Linked DNA regions of Homo sapiens: region 1 is linked to region 2. Evidence: fine-mapped expression QTL. A gene starts in region 2. The other region holds a variant in brackets. All regions are shown on one strand. Distances are from middle to middle. Region 1 holds the start of LOC105376384 (a long non-coding RNA gene). Region 2 holds the start of IL15RA (interleukin 15 receptor subunit alpha).

Region 1 (8,305 bases), 32 kb after region 2:
GGGATTACAAGCGTACACCACCACACCTGGCTAATTTTTGTATTTTTGGCAGAGACAGTGTTTCACCATGTTGGCCAGGCTGGTCTCGAACTCCTGACCTCAGGTGATCCAACCGCCTCAGCCTCCAAAGTGCTGGGATTACAGGCTTGAGCCACCGTGCCTGGCAAGAAATAAGACTCTTAACTCCCCCCACCACTTTTTTAAAACCACTTACGTTCTTTATTCCCTTGTATAGATGCAGATTTCCATTTTCTTCCTGCCTAACTTTTTAAAATATATCTTGTGGTGTGACTTTCCCCGTTTAAACCCTTCTTCAGACATTAGGAAGTGGGAGAGCAGGGATCAAAAGACACCCTGTTTCTCACTGCTCACCCCCCTGTTCCCCAAGGACTTCTTCCTCTTGGCTGAGGCTGCCACCTCCTGGCTTGGAATTTCACAGCACAGAGCGGACTCCCCGAGTACTGCGGGTTTGTCTCACCCCAGGGCTGTGCTCCTTGCAGGCAGGACCAGCCCGACCCAAATCACAGCCTCCCCCACCTCACACTGCTAGGCACTAATCAGAACTCAATGTGTGCATATTTTAGGTAATATTAGGCACTATATTACCGGGGGATTTAATTGACACTTTACTTCCCTAAGTGACTGTAAATCCACCCATTCTAGTGGTGCTGTTCTTAGCTATTCAGGATGAAACACCTCCTCCTCTCCTGAAACCGTCCGTCCCTCATCCTGACTTGCAGCTCACAGAGAAAAGTGACATACCTGAGGCTCTCTGTCAATTACAAGGCTCCTCCTGGCGTGGGAGATGTCTATAGGGAAGACACCAGCGTTTGGGCTCCTCCCAATGACCCTGTCTCCAGCTGTGCTGCACGCACTGACAGGGAGCCGGAAAAGGTGGAGGAGATGCTAAGCCCAGTGAATCCTCTCCATCGAAGGATTCAGGAAGAAGAAAACTCATCTCAGCGCCATTTTACATATATATGCATTTATACTTCCTTGTCTGTTATATCTACACATTATATATGATTTGTATTTTGACATTGTGCCTTGTATAAACAAAATAAAATATATATTTTCAATATTTTAAAATGCATTAAAAGAATCACCAAGGATGGCCGGGCAGGGTGGCTCATGCCTGTAATCCCAGTACTTTGGGAGGCCGAGGCGGGTGGATCACCTGAGGTCAGGAAATTGAGACCAGCCTGGCCAACATGGTGAAACCCCATCTCTACTAAAAACACAAAAATTAGCCTGGCGTGGTGGTGAGCGTCTGTAATCCCAGCTATTTGGGAGGCTGAGGCAGGAGAATCACTTGAACTCTGGGGGTGGAGGTTGCAGTGAGCCGAGATCATACCCCTGCACTCCAGCCTGAGAGACGCAGCGAGACTCCAATTCAAAAAAAAAAAAAAAATCACCAAGGAGAAATGTTCCACACAAAGGAGGAGAAAGAATGGGAATGCAGAATTCCACTGGGGCTCCTCCATCCTGTTGGGGTGCCTCATCACCCACTGACACAGACGGGCTGACCTCCCCTCTCCCTGCTCTCCCCACGCGTGGGCACCTGGCCTGGGCGTGGCCTCCAGGGCCTCTCAGCTAGACTACAAAGCTGTTGAATACAGAGAATGAAGAGCACAGAACTCACAGGGCAGTGGCCAGCAGTGGCCTCAGAAGCTCTGACTGGCTGCTGGGCCTCCTGTTCTGGGCTCTCCAGGCGTCTTTAGGTCCTAACCATATTCCAAACCTAAGCCTCCCATTTTCCGGGATTCTATGAGCCCCTCGTATCTTTCCAATACATTTTTTTTTCTTTATAACAGATTCTGTTTTCATTACTTGTCACTGAAAAGTTCCTAGCTGATATGAAATTCGGTACCAGGAGTGGGTATTGCAAATTATGGAGAAGAGGGGAGATAAGGAGTGTCTGCGGCTGGTTATCTGCCTTAGGGACGAGAGAAAAGAGTGAATGTTCTGATGATATGCAGAGACAGGAATGGAGCGGCCCAGGGAATTCGGTAATTAGTTCGCCAGGAGGTGCCTGGGATGTCATGCCTGCTGCAAGCCTGGCTCTCAGAGACTATGTTGCGTCCATCCTGAAATCGTATGGATATGAGAAATCTGAGCCCATAGTGGGTAGCTGCTTTTAATGTCACTGAAAAACTTAGAGAATAAGAAGTTCAAATCTCTAAAGTCTGAATTCAAGCCACAGGCTGAAACCTAAAGACTGCCTAGAACAACGCGGAATTTCATTCCTTACAGATGCGAGGCCAGGATATCTGAAAACCCATCTTAAGAGTCTGAGCCTTTGGCTGGGCGCCGTGGCTCATGCCTGTAATCCAAACACTTTGGGAGGCCGAGGCAGGTGGATCGCTTGAGTCCAGGAGTTCAAGACCAGCCCAAACAACATGGCGAAACCCCTGTCTCTACAAAAAATACAAAAATTAGCCAGTTGTGGTGGCATGTGCCTGTAGTCCCAGCTACTCAAGAGGCTGAGGTGGGAGAACTGCTTGAGCCCAGGAGGTAGCAGTGAGCCGAGATCATGCCACAGCACTCCAGCCTGGATGACAGAGGAGACACAGTCTCCAAAAAAAAACAACAGTCTAAGCCGTCAAGTTGTTGGAAGAACATTAGCTGAATCCATGGCCCCAGCAGGTTTCCCAGCTGAAGGGAGAGCACTGATTGGAGAAGGGCGAGGTTCCTGTACTGGATTAAAAATGTAGGGGGACATTTGGAGGACTCACAGGATCCCCCACCCTCCCTTGTCCTCAGAAGCAGCCCTCTGTTCTGCCTGACAATGCTGCAACATTGCCTCCTGCTCGAGGGGGGCATCTTGCAAAAGGAAGTCTGTTCTGCTGACAATTTCCTCCCCCTGTCCCATTCTGCATGGGGAGAAAACTTTGCTGAGAATCCCAATCAGACCCTCAGGATCCCAGGAATCAGCCTGTTCCGTGGAAACAAGAGCTCCCCAAGGCTGGGCCGGGCCCTGCTGCAAGCACCTCCACCCCCACGTCCCACCTGCGGCCTCCTCACAGGCCAAGCCCGTAGCCAATGCCCAATGCCCCTGTCCTTCCTTCACAGTCTCCTACATCCAACTCACCTTCCAGAACCAGATCAAGTTTACCTTCTCCAGGAGCCTCTGTTGTTTCAGTTTTGGAGGGTTTTTTTTTTTGAGACAGAGTCTCGCTCTGTCGCTCAGGCTGGAGTGCAGTGGCACGATCTCCACTCACTGCAACCTCCGCCTCCCGAGTTCAAGCGATTCTCCTGCCTCAGCTTCCTGAGTAGCTGGGACTACAGGTGCGTGCCACCATGCCCAGCTAATTTTTATATTTTTGATAGAGACAGGGTTTCGCCATGTTGTCCAGGCTGATCTGGAACTCCTGATCTCAAGTGATCCACCCGCCTTGGCCTCCCATAGTGCTGGGACTACAGGCGTGAGCCACCATGCCCAGCCCCGGAGCCTTGGCTAATGACTCAGTTGTACAAAATCATTTGCCTCTGAGCCTTCATAACACTTATTATCGGTGCTATTCATGTGGCATCTGCAAAATACTATCTTTGTGCAGTGGAAAGAAGATAGAACTTAAAAGCCTGAGTGTCGAGCATCCATTCTACCCTTTGCTGAGCATCCATTCTACCCTTTGCTGGCCCTGTCACTTGGAGACACTACACACACGGACATTGCCTCATCTTTGTAGTGGGGATGACGGCACATGCACTCCCTTCCCAGAGG[C/T]GTGAGGGTCACAGGAGACCCTGGCGTCTGTCTCTCCCCTCGCTAGCCACTAGAGATCCTGACAGTTAAGCCTGGTACTAATCCTCAAGAAGTTTACAGCCTGGTCAAAAAGAGAAGCATACCGGAACAAATATGAAACAAAACCTTACACCACAAGCACACACACTAATGGGACACGAGCCCAGTAAAGGCAGAAATGGCTCCAAGGCCTGGAAGCTTGAGGAATGCAGGATGTGAGTTGGAAGGATGGGTGGAATTTAAATAAACGGGCAGGGAGCATTCTAAATGGTGGGGGGGGGCGGTGGAGGCAAAAACCCAAACAGGAAATTGAGCAACACGTTCAGGAAAGACAGAGCATGGCTGCTGGGCAGCCAGGTCAACCGGACGGCAAGGCAGGGGTTGGCCGGGGAAGCACTGCGCCGCCCCTGCATGCCCTGCATCCTCGGGTCCTGGGAGGGCTGCTCAGTAACTGGAAGGAAAATGAAACTGAAAAAGAGCAAGGGTCCCGTAGGATTGAACACAGTTGGTGAAACTTGGGCCGTCTGCCTCAAGTCCCCGCTTGGCAAAACCACTCCCTCCTGGTGGACGCCCTCACCATGAAGGTTAGTGCTTCTCTTTCTGAAGCTGTGTCTTCATTCCTCTGGGCAGAGAGCCAACAGTCCTAGTTACAGAAGTGTATAACTGGGTGCCATGGCTCACCTAGGGTCCCAGCTACTCAGGAATCTGAGGTGGGAGGATCGCTTGAGCCCAGGAGCATGAGGCTGCAGTGAGCGGTGATCGCGTCACTGCGCTCCAGCCTGGGCGACAGAGTGGGACTCTTGTCTCCAAAATAATTCAAAAATGGGGTGTAATCTTCAAAATCTCCTTGGAGTTAATGCCACCCAGAGGGTACTCAAATTGCTGTCAGTGTCCCGGGGCTGCAGTGGCTGCAGGTGTTTTCCAAGTGTTCTGGGAAGCCCTGGTGGCTGCAGAGGCACCTGAGGGGCCACCACAGGCGGGAGCGGAGAAGGAACTCTGGGTGCCCATCCCCCTCCTGAGTGACCACAGCGGCTGCATTTGTTAACTGGAAGTAAAATTAAGCCTAAAGAATTCCATGGCTAAGAACATCTGAAAGCCTTCCATGCTATTAAATATTTATTTTATTGTTCATCCTGGACTCCATAGGCAGATGCTTTAAAAAAACAAACAAACTGATCTTTTGGAAGAGTTCTAACTCCAACTCTTCACACAGTGGTAGTGGAAATACTATGGGTTTGGGATTGAACTTGAGTTTTCATCCAAGCTCTGCTCTGTGATACTGAGCACAGTGGGCCCAGCCCCGTGACTCTTTAGAGCCTGTTTCTTCATCTGCAAATGGCGGCTGTCATCTGCCTCCCAGGTTTGCTGTGAGGACTGAAGGAATTCACATACACAAAGGCCTGATAGCGTCTACCTGCAGGAGGCTCCTAATAAACGTTGAGTTCACTTCCTTAATGAGGTATATTTACTTACATGGTAATCAGCACCTGCCCCTTCCTTCGCAAATACATTCCCACTTTTTTAGGATTTATTATTTCACCCAGCCGTGTGCATCATGGAAAGCTGACCTCATCCCAAGCTCCAGGAAATAAAACCCTGATGATTTGAAGCCATTCTTCCTTACTATGATTGGCTTAGGAGTGGGCAGGTAGCCCAGTTCTGACCAACAATATGTGAGTCAGCTGGAGAAGCCTGTGGGAAAGGCTTTCTTGCGCCTCTTCCCAGACAAAACCAGGTCCAGCTGCTTGTTCTCATGGTCCAATAACAAGCTGCAGACAGAGTGGGGAAGAAGGGAGTTTATTTCTGGTTACAGGGAGAAGGTCAGAGTAACTCACCAGACTAATTTAAAATTATAAGTTTTTTTTCAGTGCTTATACACATTTAAACCATATGCCTATGTGCAGGAGTACACCTCCAAGCTGAAGTATATTCCTCTGTTTAATCTTTCACTAGGGTCTGGGGTCTGGAAAATTACTTCAGAGCCTTGAAACAATTACTTCATTTTTTTTCTTTCTTATTTTAGAGGGAGGGTCTCACTATGTTGCCCAGGCTGGTCTTGAACTCCTGGGCTCAAGCGACCCTCCTCCCTCAGCCTCCCAAAGTGCTGGGATTGCGGGCGTGAGCCGCTGCTCCTGGCCCAATTACTTAATTTAAAGTGGATCATGGTACAAGGTCCACAAGAACGCCTCCATTATTTTAATTAAACTCTAAGGTCTGGGAGAAAGCCCAGGTGGGGTCTTAATCGACTTGTTTTTACACTCTAGCCTTTGTATTAAGGCACCAGTTTCTCCAATTTTCCTCGTTTAATTTATATATTCCTCAGAGTTATAGTAAGGTGTTGGTGAGGCTGGCTGCTCTGGTTGCTAAGAGAGACCCGGCCTGCCACACTCCTAAGAGACACAGAAGACCAGCCTACCCTTCCCTTGCCTCCCGTGACACTGCCCTGCAGGTGGCTGGCCAAGAGAAGCCTGCCCGGCGACGCTGAGGCACCGAACATGAGCAGGGGAGGAAGGAATGCCTGGGAGCAGCTGAGCCGAGCCCCTGCCACCAGCCTCCTCCGCACGCCCGTGGAATCAGCACTTTCTGCTTCCCGCCCCTGAGAGCCTTGCTCTGGGGCCACTCACAGCCAATTAAGTGGGGATGTTGTAAGAGACTCTAAAATACGTGGAGCTGGCTGAGGACGCGGGACCGACCCCATTATGTGTGTGTGAGGCTGATTAAAGTGTTACCTGTCACCAGGTGTCGCCAATTCTTGGTGAAGCTCTCTCCATGTGACCTCCATGCTACTTATTTTTTATTTTATTGTTCATCCTGGACTCCAAAGGCTGATGCTATTTTTTTTTTTAATGTGATCTTTTGGAAGAGTTCTAACTGCAACTCTTCACATAGTGGTAGTAGAATATACCATGGGTATTAAAAACTAAAGCATTTCTTAATCTGTGGGGTCCAGATTAGGAAGACATGTATTAGGAAAATGATTACTTTAAAAAAAATAAAAAATTCAGGCCAGGCATAGTGGCTCACGCCTGTAATCCCAGCACTTTGGGAGGCTGAGGCAGGTGGATCACCTGAGGTCAGGAGTTCAAGACCAGCCTGGCCGACATGGTGAAACCCCGTCTCTACCAAAAATACAAAAATTAGCTGGTTGTGGTCACATATGCTTGTAATTCCAGCTACTTGGGAGGCTGAGACAGGAGAATCGCTTGAACCCGGGAGGCAGAGGTTGCAGTGAGCGGAGATCTCACCACTGCACTCCAGGCTGGGTGACAGAGTGAGGCTCTGTCTCAAAAAAAAAAAAAAAAAAGAAAAGAAAAAAAAATCAGAACCACTGAATTGTACATTTAAAAAAGGAAGAAAAGAAAAATCCAGGATGTCAGCACTGTGCTGGCCGCTTCCTGGGGCCCTCAGTGAGTTCCTTTAAAAGACAGGCTTAGGGTGACAGAGGCCAGCCTGGAAATGGACAGGAAACGCCAGCCTTTCCGCTGCGGTCCAACTTGGGCTGACGCCCTCATCGCAACAGGAGAGCCCTGCAGGGTTGAGGCAGGAGGGTGACCGGCGTTAGTCTTCATTGTAAGATTGCAGGTCCCTCTACATGGGAGCGAGTTGGGCCAGGGCAGAGGCACAGAGCAACATAGACTACAACTGGTCCAGGAGGCAGAACGGTGGAGGGTCGCGGGCGGGTGGGTGGTGCACCCTGGAGGCCGCGTGGAGCTTCCCAGTGAACTGGCATGAAGAAAAGTATCACAGCCCGATGGTGGTGCTGTTTCTGGAGGTGGGGAAGGGTGCGTGGAGGAGCCAGCCAGGCTCGGAAGGAAATCAGGGGCTGCATGTGGGACATGGCAGGGCTGAGATGTCACGAAGACAGCAAATGGAGTGATCGACTGGCGACCTTGGCGTTTGAGTGGGAAGCCCCCCTCCCTCCACCTAACCTACCTCTCAGCCCACGCCACTAGGGATAAAACACACACAGGTCCCCAGTGAGGAGGATCGCAGGGGACGGCACCTCCTGGGCCCTCATGGAGAACCTGTCCCTTAAGTAGGCCAGGCAGAGGGAGAGCCCCTGCCGGCTAAGGGAGCCCTGCCCCCCACACCAGCCCAGCTGTGCAGAGGTGCCTTGGCCAGGGGCGTGCGTGTAGCACTGTCTTCATGTCTGGGCAAGGAGCTGGAGGAACCCTGCCTGCCTCGGTTCAGACGTCTCTACCGCACCCACTCACTGCAAATGTAGAGTGATCAGCTTCCAGGCTCTCGGTGTACCCCACATTGCTAAAGCCAGGGGTTCAGGGTGACTAGGAAGGACTGAAGGGCAAGGATCAGACTTGAAAAACATGTTAAATTGCTAATAGTCTGATTCTAGGGGTGTCAAAGTCCCTTTGTGATACAGTGAGTTGCTCCCAGACACAGACCAAATGCCACTACAGGACGGAAGCTGGGCAGGCAGCGTGACAGTGACCAGCTTCCCAGGCAGGAAGGTCCCACGGGGGTGCTGCACTGCCTTAAGTTTATTAAGCTGTGTCTGAGTCCACCATGCGACGTCTCTGCCCTCATGCCTGGGCTGCTAAAGGA
Region 2 (8,306 bases):
CTCAGGAAGCTGAGGCGGAAGGATCACCTGAGCCTGGGAGCTCAAGGCTGTAGTGAGATGGAATCACGCCACTGCACTCCAGCCAGGGCAACATAGTGAGACCCTGCCTCAAAAAAAAAAAAAAAAAAAAAGGAAAAGTTCACTATAAGCTAAACCTTGAGCCTAGAGCACGTGCAGAACCCTGGAGAAGTTCCTACCCCCAAGGCAGGAGTTCGTAGCTAATAGCTTCTTGGGCTTTTGGTGCAGACTGGCTGGAGATTGGAGAAGCTACATCATGAGAAAGGGGCTTTTGTTCTCTTTTCTGGGCCGAATCAGGCAGCAGCAACTTGTAACCATCTGGCCATCTGCTGGTATCTTGTAGGGCAGCTTATCTTGCAAAAGCACTAGGTGCTGACGCAGGAGAGTTGCAAGCAAAAGAAGACTCTGCAAAAGGGTCCTTCAGGGCTTCGCACAAGGGGACAAGTTGGTACAGGGTCCTCATCTTGCTTACCCTGCCTCGAACACCCACCGTTCTAGTCCTTCAATGAGCCCATCGCATGCTTTCATCATGGCGCCTGCAGGTGCGTGTTCTGCTGTGATAACAGCATTATGTTCGTCATCACTGTTAGCACAAGCACCTTGGTTCAGAACCGTTTTGCCATTGTTCATCATCGGTCAATGAACGAACAACTGGAGCCACAGTATAGATGTTAAAAACCTGTATATCCACTTCGTCCAGCATGCTGACACACTCTGAAGGTATATTTTTTGCCTGCATAGGGAGGTCAGACATCATTTTTTTCCCACTTCACATATGGAATACTTCCATGTCATCACCTTGTTCATCATCATCACTGAACATAGTCGCAGACCAGAGGTTGTGCCATGCACGCATGGCTGTGTCGTTAGTCACTGAGTTCCAAGCATTGGAAACAGCATTGGCATCCTTCATGCTAAACACCTTTTGAAAACTTCCACACCCACCCCTCTGTTCACTGCTGCTAGCGTGCAATGTTTCCATATTTACTCTCCATTGATCTCCATTGATCTAAGGATACCCTGGTCACATGGCTGAAGTAATGAAGTCACATTTGGAAGAAAGCCCATGGCATAAACATTATTTTTAATGAGAGTTTCAGCTGGAGGATGAGCAGAATGGTTGTCAAAGAAAAACAAAATCTTGCAGTCATCATCCAGTCCACCCTCCCTACAGTGACACAAGCCACTGGTCCAAAATGTTTGTGAGACTAATCAGAAAAGATGTCCCTGATTATACATGTAATCTCAGCTACTCAGGAAGCTGAGGTGGGAGGATGGCTTGAGGCCAGGAGTGTGAGACCAGCCTTGGCAACATAGTGAGACCTCATCTCTAGAAATAAATAAATATCAGCCAGGTGTGGTGGTGCACACCTATAGGTGTGCTGTGTTGCCCAGGCTGGTCTCGAACTCCTGAGCTCAAGTGATCCACCCACCTTGGCCTCCCAAAGTGCTGGGATTACAGACGTGAGCCACTGCACCCGGCCAACATTTTCAACATCATTAGACCAGAGAGCAGAGAATAAGCAAAAATAGCACAGTGAGAAGTGCACAGAGGCGGGGCTTGGCTCCATATGGGGAATTGTCGGGACCTACCATGGGTGTGTTCGACCTGCACACAGGCCATTTTACCACCTTTTGTGTGCGTGCTTGCATGGGGGAATCTGGGCATGCACAGAAAAGATATCTCTCAGCTGAAGGCGGCTGGGAGAGTCTTTTTTCCCCTTGGGGATGCTGAATAAACAGTGTGTTATGTGCCTGTGTTTTGATTGCCACCCACCCCACGAGATCAGGTGTGGAATTTTCCACTTGTGGCGTAATGTCAGAGCTCAAAAAGTTTTGGATTTTGGACCATTTTGGATTTGGGATTTGGAGATCAGGGGTGCTCAATCTGTATGGTACTGTTCATATGAATTTTTTTTTTTTTTTTTTGAGACCGAGTCTCTTTCTGTCGCCCAGGCTAGAGTGCAGTGGTGTGATCTCAGCTCACTGCATCCTCCACCTCCCAGGTTCAAGCGATTCTCATGCCTCAGCCTCCCAAGTAGATGAGATTACAGGTGCGTGCCACCACACCCTGCTAATTTTTGTATTTTTAGTAGAGATGGGGTTTCACCATGTAGGCCAGGCTGGTCTCGAACTCCTGACCTCAAGTGATCTGCCCACCTCAGCCTCCCAAAGTGCTGGGATTACAGTCATGAGCCACCACACCCAGCCTTAATCACATGAATTTTTAAAAATGTAAGCCATCCTGTCCGTTGCACATGGACATACACATGGAAAAGGGGCCTAAGAATGCCTGGGAATGATGAGTACCAGTTTCAAGAAACATTTACCTGCGAGAAAGTGGAAGACGGAGGAAGAGAAAGATGCAAGAATACAAAGGGGCTTCAACTTTATCTGTAATTTTTTTATTCCAAAAAATATCTGAAGCAAACATTGAGCAGACATATTAAGTTTTGACAGGATGAGGCAGTAGGCTCATGGATATCCACTATATTTATTGATTGCTATAGTTCGAAGTATATTTGAAATTTACATTATTTAACAACGTATATATATGTAATGAAATAGAGTTCTTTAAGCATACCAAATTTACAATTTTATTTTCAAATTTTAAAATTTACTTTTGGTCAGAATGCAGTAAAATGGGTACTTTAACACAATCAATGCTAGTTAGAAGGTATATTGATACAAGACTTTTGGAAAGCAAGATAGAAATATTTGTTTAAAAGAGAAAAAGCCTTTAAAAATATTCCCTACCAGTTGACTCAATAGTTCCACTGTAGGAAATCTATTCTAAGCGATCTTAAATTCACAAGATTTTGTAGAAAGACATTTATGACAATGTTATCTTTAATATTAAAATAATAGAGGGGATGTTAAACTATGATAATTTGCAGCCATTAAAAACTTTTACAAAGAGTCTGTAATAATGGAGAAATCTCTACTTCATAAATGTCCATAGAATAAAAAATGCTCTATTGTATACATGCTATGCTTAGCCTGCATTCAATAAACCCTCAATATATTTGAGAATATTAAGGAATATTGTTAATTTTTAAATTTGATCTTATCATCTTGAGATTTATTATTAAGTATTGAGAGAAATTGAATAATGTGGGATTTCCCCAGTTGGAGTAAGGGTGGCTATTCCTGCTTAGAAAAAAAGAATGGACCTTGTGTGGTCACTGCCGGATGGTAGGTTCATTATTCTTTCTACTTTTTTTTTTTAAATTTAAGAGACAGGAACTGGCTGTGTTGCCCAGGCTGGAGTGCAGTGGTGCGATCTCAGCTCACTGCAACCTCAGCCTCCTGGGTTCAAGTGATTCTCCTGCCTCAGCCTCCTGAATAGCTGGGATTACAGGCGCCCGCCACCATGCCCAGCTAATTTTGGTATTTTTAGTAGAGATGGGGTTTCACCATGTTGGCCAGGCTAGTCTCGAATTCCTGACTTCAGGCGATCCACCTGCCTTGGCCTCCGAAAGTGCTTGGATTTCAGGAGTGGCCACCGCGCTCGGCCCTAAATTCTTTTATTTAACTTTTAAGTTCAGGGTTATAAGTGCAGGTTTGTTATAAAGGTAAACCTGTGTCTTGGGGGATTATTGTACAGATTATTTCGTTTTCAAAGAGAATTTGCAAGTATGTCACAAAAGCCTCATAAACACGTTGTGAGATTTTAAGAGGCAATGACCGAGGCTTGGAGATGTCTCGTCCTGTCCAATGTCACCGCTAGACCTGAGAATCTGCACTTGGGAGCTTACAGACCCGGTTCTCAGGCTTCACTTGAGACCCCAAGAAAGAAAAAAACCCACCAGCCAAAGAGGAGGATGGCAGCCTGGAAGAACCTAAGGAAGCGAGGCTCAGAGGTGAAGCACTGTGGCTCCTCTCCCCCTTCTCCCCCCTCCGCCCCCTCTCCTTCTAAGATGAGGCATTTTCTAGGGGAGCAAAGCTGCAGCAGGAATTCGGCGAAGTGGCGGAGCTGGGGCCCCAGCGGGCGCCGGGGGCCGCGGGAGCCAGCAGGTGGCGGGGGCTGCGCTCCGCCCGGGCCAGAGCGCACCAGGCAGGTGCCCGCGCCTCCGCACCGCGGCGACACCTCCGCGGGCACTCACCCAGGCCGGCCGCTCACAACCGAGCGCAGGGCCGCGGAGGGAGACCAGGAAAGCCGAAGGCGGAGCAGCTGGAGGCGACCAGCGCCGGGCGAGGTCAAGTGGATCCGAGCCGCAGAGAGGGCTGGAGAGAGTCTGCTCTCCGATGACTTTGCCCACTCTCTTCGCAGTGGGGACACCGGACCGAGTGCACACTGGAGGTCCCAGAGCACGACGAGCGCGGAGGACCGGGAGGCTCCCGGGCTTGCGTGGGTAAGGTCCTGGGTCCCCACCGGGCACGGCCCATGCGTCCCGGGGACAGGGGTGGCTGTGCGGTGCCGCGGCGGCCGGCGGGGCTCCTTCCCCAGCAGGGGTGGGGACGCTGAGTCACGGATCTGTCACCGCTTTGCACCTCTCCGAGCCCTCGGGGGCCAAAGCAAAAGCGAAAGCGAATGCGACTGGCGGGGCGGCAGGTCCCAGAGCAGCGCTCGCCACCTCCCCCCGGCCTGGGCAGCGCTCGCCCGGGGAGTCCAGCGGTGTCCTGTGGAGCTGCCGCCATGGCCCCGCGGCGGGCGCGCGGCTGCCGGACCCTCGGTCTCCCGGCGCTGCTACTGCTGCTGCTGCTCCGGCCGCCGGCGACGCGGGGTAGGGAGCTGGGAGCAGGGGCGCCCGGGCGGGACTTGGAAGGGGGCCGGGACGTGGAGCTGGAGGGAACCGGGCGCCCCATCTCCCCGGGCCGTGCGGGGGCGTCGGTGCCCTCGGGAGCGCGGTGCGCGCAGGCCCAGGCCGGGGAGGGGACGCGGCGCCGGGCAGGAGGGACACGTGCCGGGAGCCGGGGTCGCAGGGAGAGCGCCGCCGCTGCGCCCGGGTCACCCACGTAAGGGAGCGGGCGGCCTGGCTGGGGTCTCCGAGGCCGAGGTCAGGAGCAGTTCTGAGAAGCCCGTTTTGGCCACGGGAGCGCGGAGCCGGCGGCGTCCAGCAGTTTGGAGACACGGGCGAGTGCGCTTCTCCCAGGCGCCTGGACTGCAGGGCGGGTGTTGCATAGCACGCGGTCCTCGGAGGGGTCCGGGAGAAACTACTCCTCCCGACTCCCAGGCAAAAGTAAATTATGTCAGTGGGAGCTGGGAGGGTGGGGAGGAGCTGTGTCCCAGGGGGAAACGCGTCGGGCAAGTTGCACACCTGGGGACCTGGAAACAACTTCCAATTCTTAAGCGATCAGGAAACCAGCAGAGGCGGTCGGGACCGGATGGGGGTGGGGAGTGGGGGCCAGCCTGGAGTCTACACTCGCAGAAAAAGGGGGAAGAGATCTGTGATCGCTTGGTGTATTCGAGAAGAAAGCGGGTCGCGGAGCTCTGATCTCGGCAGGGAGGACGGAATGAGCGATTCCTAGGGGTTTTGTCCCGGCAGCCAGAGGAAGGAGGAAAACAGTAGCAGGGTCTAGCTCTATCCTTGTCAGCGCTTCTTTATCTTTTTATAGTCAGGGAGCTCTTGGAGGGTCTGATGAAAGCTATGAACCCCCGGCCCCCAGAAAAATGCATGAATGAACATAGTTACAAAATGTGCATATGATTTTGGGGTCAAAGCCCCACTGAAGGCCATCCATGGACTCTCTATAGGAATTAGTAACGCCATGATCTGTGTGTGTTTTTAAGCGAGACCCTGAATAATTTACATCCAGTCGGGCCAGTCTGCCCAGGCCCTGGCCAAAGCCATTCCACGCACAGTTGCTGCTGCCTGGTGTGGCCTGAACGCCCCCCCACCCTCTGCCACCCCCACCCCAGCTCTGCGAGGCTTCTTGAAGTTTCGTTTTCATGAGACTCTGATGCTTGGATTTCCCCCCACATCTGAGAAGCAGAGTTAGTTGGTGACCGGTTGGTTCCTCCCAGTTGGCTAGCAGTGTCACAGGACCCCATAGCTGGCAACTGGGGCAGCTGGATTACACAATATGAAAGTGAAATGCAGCCTTAGTCAAAGCCCAGCAGAGAGGAGGTGTCTTCCTTGAAGACTGAGTGGATAGGGGAGCACCACTGTGAGATCTCTGATCTCATCAGCTGCACAGCCTTGCCCTTTGACCTTAGAAAGATGTTGCTACCTTCCCTTCCCAAAGCTCTCAATGTTTTTTCTTTTTCTTTTTCTTTCTTTCTTGTTTTCTTTTTTGAGACGGAGTCTCACTCTGTCACCCCGGCTGGGGTGCAGTAGCGCGATCTCAGCTCACTGCAACCTCCGCCTCCTGGGTTCAAGCGATTCTGCTGCCTCAGCCTCCTGAGTAGCTGGGATTACAGGCGATCGCCACCACGCCCAGTAACTTTTGTGTTTTTAATAGAGACGGGGTTTCATCATGTTGGTCAGGCTGATCCAACATGGTGATCACTCCTGACCTTGTGATCTGCCCGCCTCGGCCTTCCAAAGTGCTGGGATTACAGGCGTGAGCCAGCTTGCCCAGCCGTTGTTTTTTTTCCCTTTAACAGCCTTATTGAGGTATAATTGACCGACAATAAACTGCATATATTGAAGTTGCACACTTTGATAAGTTTGGAGGTAAATGCATACATACTCATGAAACCACTGCCACCACCAAGAGTGAACACAACTATCACTCCCAAAGACTTCCTCATGCCCTGCACAGTCCTCATCTCCCACCTCGCCCATCTCCCAGGCAATTTGATGCACTTTCTAAAATTTTTTATAAATAGAATTACACGGTAGGAACTCTTTCTTGTTTGGCTTTTTTCACAGACAGTAATTATCCTGAGAATTTATCCATGTTGTAATTTGTATAAGTAGTTCATTAGTTTCTACCATTGAGTAGTAGTATTCTACCCATGGCTAGCCCATCATTTGTTTAGCCATTCACTTGTTAAGGGACATTTGGGTTGTTTCCAGTTTGGGACTATTACAAAGAAAGCTGCTATGAACACTGACATACAGGTTTCTGTATGGACACATGTTTTCATTTCTCATGGGTAGAGAATGGTTGGGAGTAGAGTGGCTGTGTTATATGGCAGGTGTATGTTTAATTTTTTTTTTTTTGAAACAATGTCACACCATTGTTTCCCAAGCTGGAGTGCAGTAGCATGATTATAGCTCACTGCAGCCTTGACCTCTCAGGTGTTTAATTTTTAATTTTTATTTATTTATTTTTAATTTTTATTTATTTTTAATTTACTTATTTTGAGACAGAATCTCACTCTGTTGCCCAGACTGAAGTGCAGTGGCTCCATCTCTGCTCACTGAAACCTCTGCCTCCTGGGTTCAAGCGATTCTCCTGCCTCAGCCTCCTGAGTAGCTGGGACTACAGGCTTGCACCACTACGCCCGGCTAATTTTTGTATTTTTAGTAGAGATGGGGTTTCACCATGTTGGCCAGGCTGGTCTCGAACTCCTGACCTCAGGGGATCTGCCTGCTTTGGCCTCCCAAAGTGCTGGGATTACAGGTGTGAGCCATTGCACCTGGCCTCAGAAGTTTAATTTTTAAAGAAACTGCTAAACCATTTCCCAAAGTTGTTATACGATTTTACATTCCCACAGCAGTGTAGGGAAGTTCCAGTTCCTTCACACCCTTGTCAGCTCTTGGTATGATGAATCTTTTTAATTTTACCCATTCTACTAGGTATGTAGGGGGTCTCCCCTTGTAGTTTTAATTTGCATTTTTCTACAGCTGGTGATGTTATGTGCTTATTTGCCATGTATATATCTTCTCTGGTAGTATCTGTTTATATTTTTTTTGCTCTCTTAAAAATTGAATTGTATCAGCTGGGTGTGGTGGCTCACACCTGTAATCCCAGCACTTTGGGAGGCCAACGCGGGCAGATCACTTGAGGCCAGGAGTTCGAGACCAGCCAGGTCAACATGGTAAAACCCCTTCTCTACTAAAAATACAAAAATTAGCCAGCTGTGGTAGCCCATGCCTGTAATGTCAGCTACTCAGGAGGCTGAGGCAGGAGAATCGCTTGAACCCTGGAGGCAGAGGTTGCGGTGAGCAGAGATCGCGCCACTGCACTCCAGCCTGGGACACAGAGCGAGACTGTCTTTTTTTTTTTTTCTGACTCTGTCTTATGTATAAAAAATTGAATTGTATCATTACTGAATTTTGAGAGTTCTTTATATATTCTGGATACGAGGCCCTAATCAGGTATATGATTTGCAAATATTTTCTCAGATTCTGTGGCTTATCCTTTCTCTTAGCAGTGTCTTTTGAAAAGCAGAA

The links.
Region 1: its variant is fine-mapped to the expression of IL15RA in whole blood (TOPMed, PIP above 0.99). The same link has a PIP of 0.9 or more in neutrophils.

The regions. Positions count from the first base shown.
Region 1 is chr10:5,941,676-5,949,980 of GRCh38, reverse strand. It overlaps LOC105376384 (a long non-coding RNA gene), which reads left to right and starts at 4,067. Exons shown (of 2, transcript NR_188180.1): 1 at 4,067-4,326. It also overlaps a transcript of IL15RA not described here. RefSeq lists an enhancer at 4,308-4,866. The variant C/T (reference allele first, on the strand shown) is at 3,725.
Region 2 is chr10:5,973,844-5,982,149 of GRCh38, reverse strand. It overlaps IL15RA (interleukin 15 receptor subunit alpha), which reads left to right and starts at 4,607. Exons shown (of 7, transcript NM_002189.4): 1 at 4,607-4,745. The coding sequence starts at 4,658. LOC107984200 (a long non-coding RNA gene) reads right to left here. Exons shown (of 3, transcript XR_001747348.2): 3 at 8,086-8,306. RefSeq lists silencers at 170-464, 3,844-4,513, 4,604-4,983 and enhancers at 5,874-5,953, 6,084-6,353.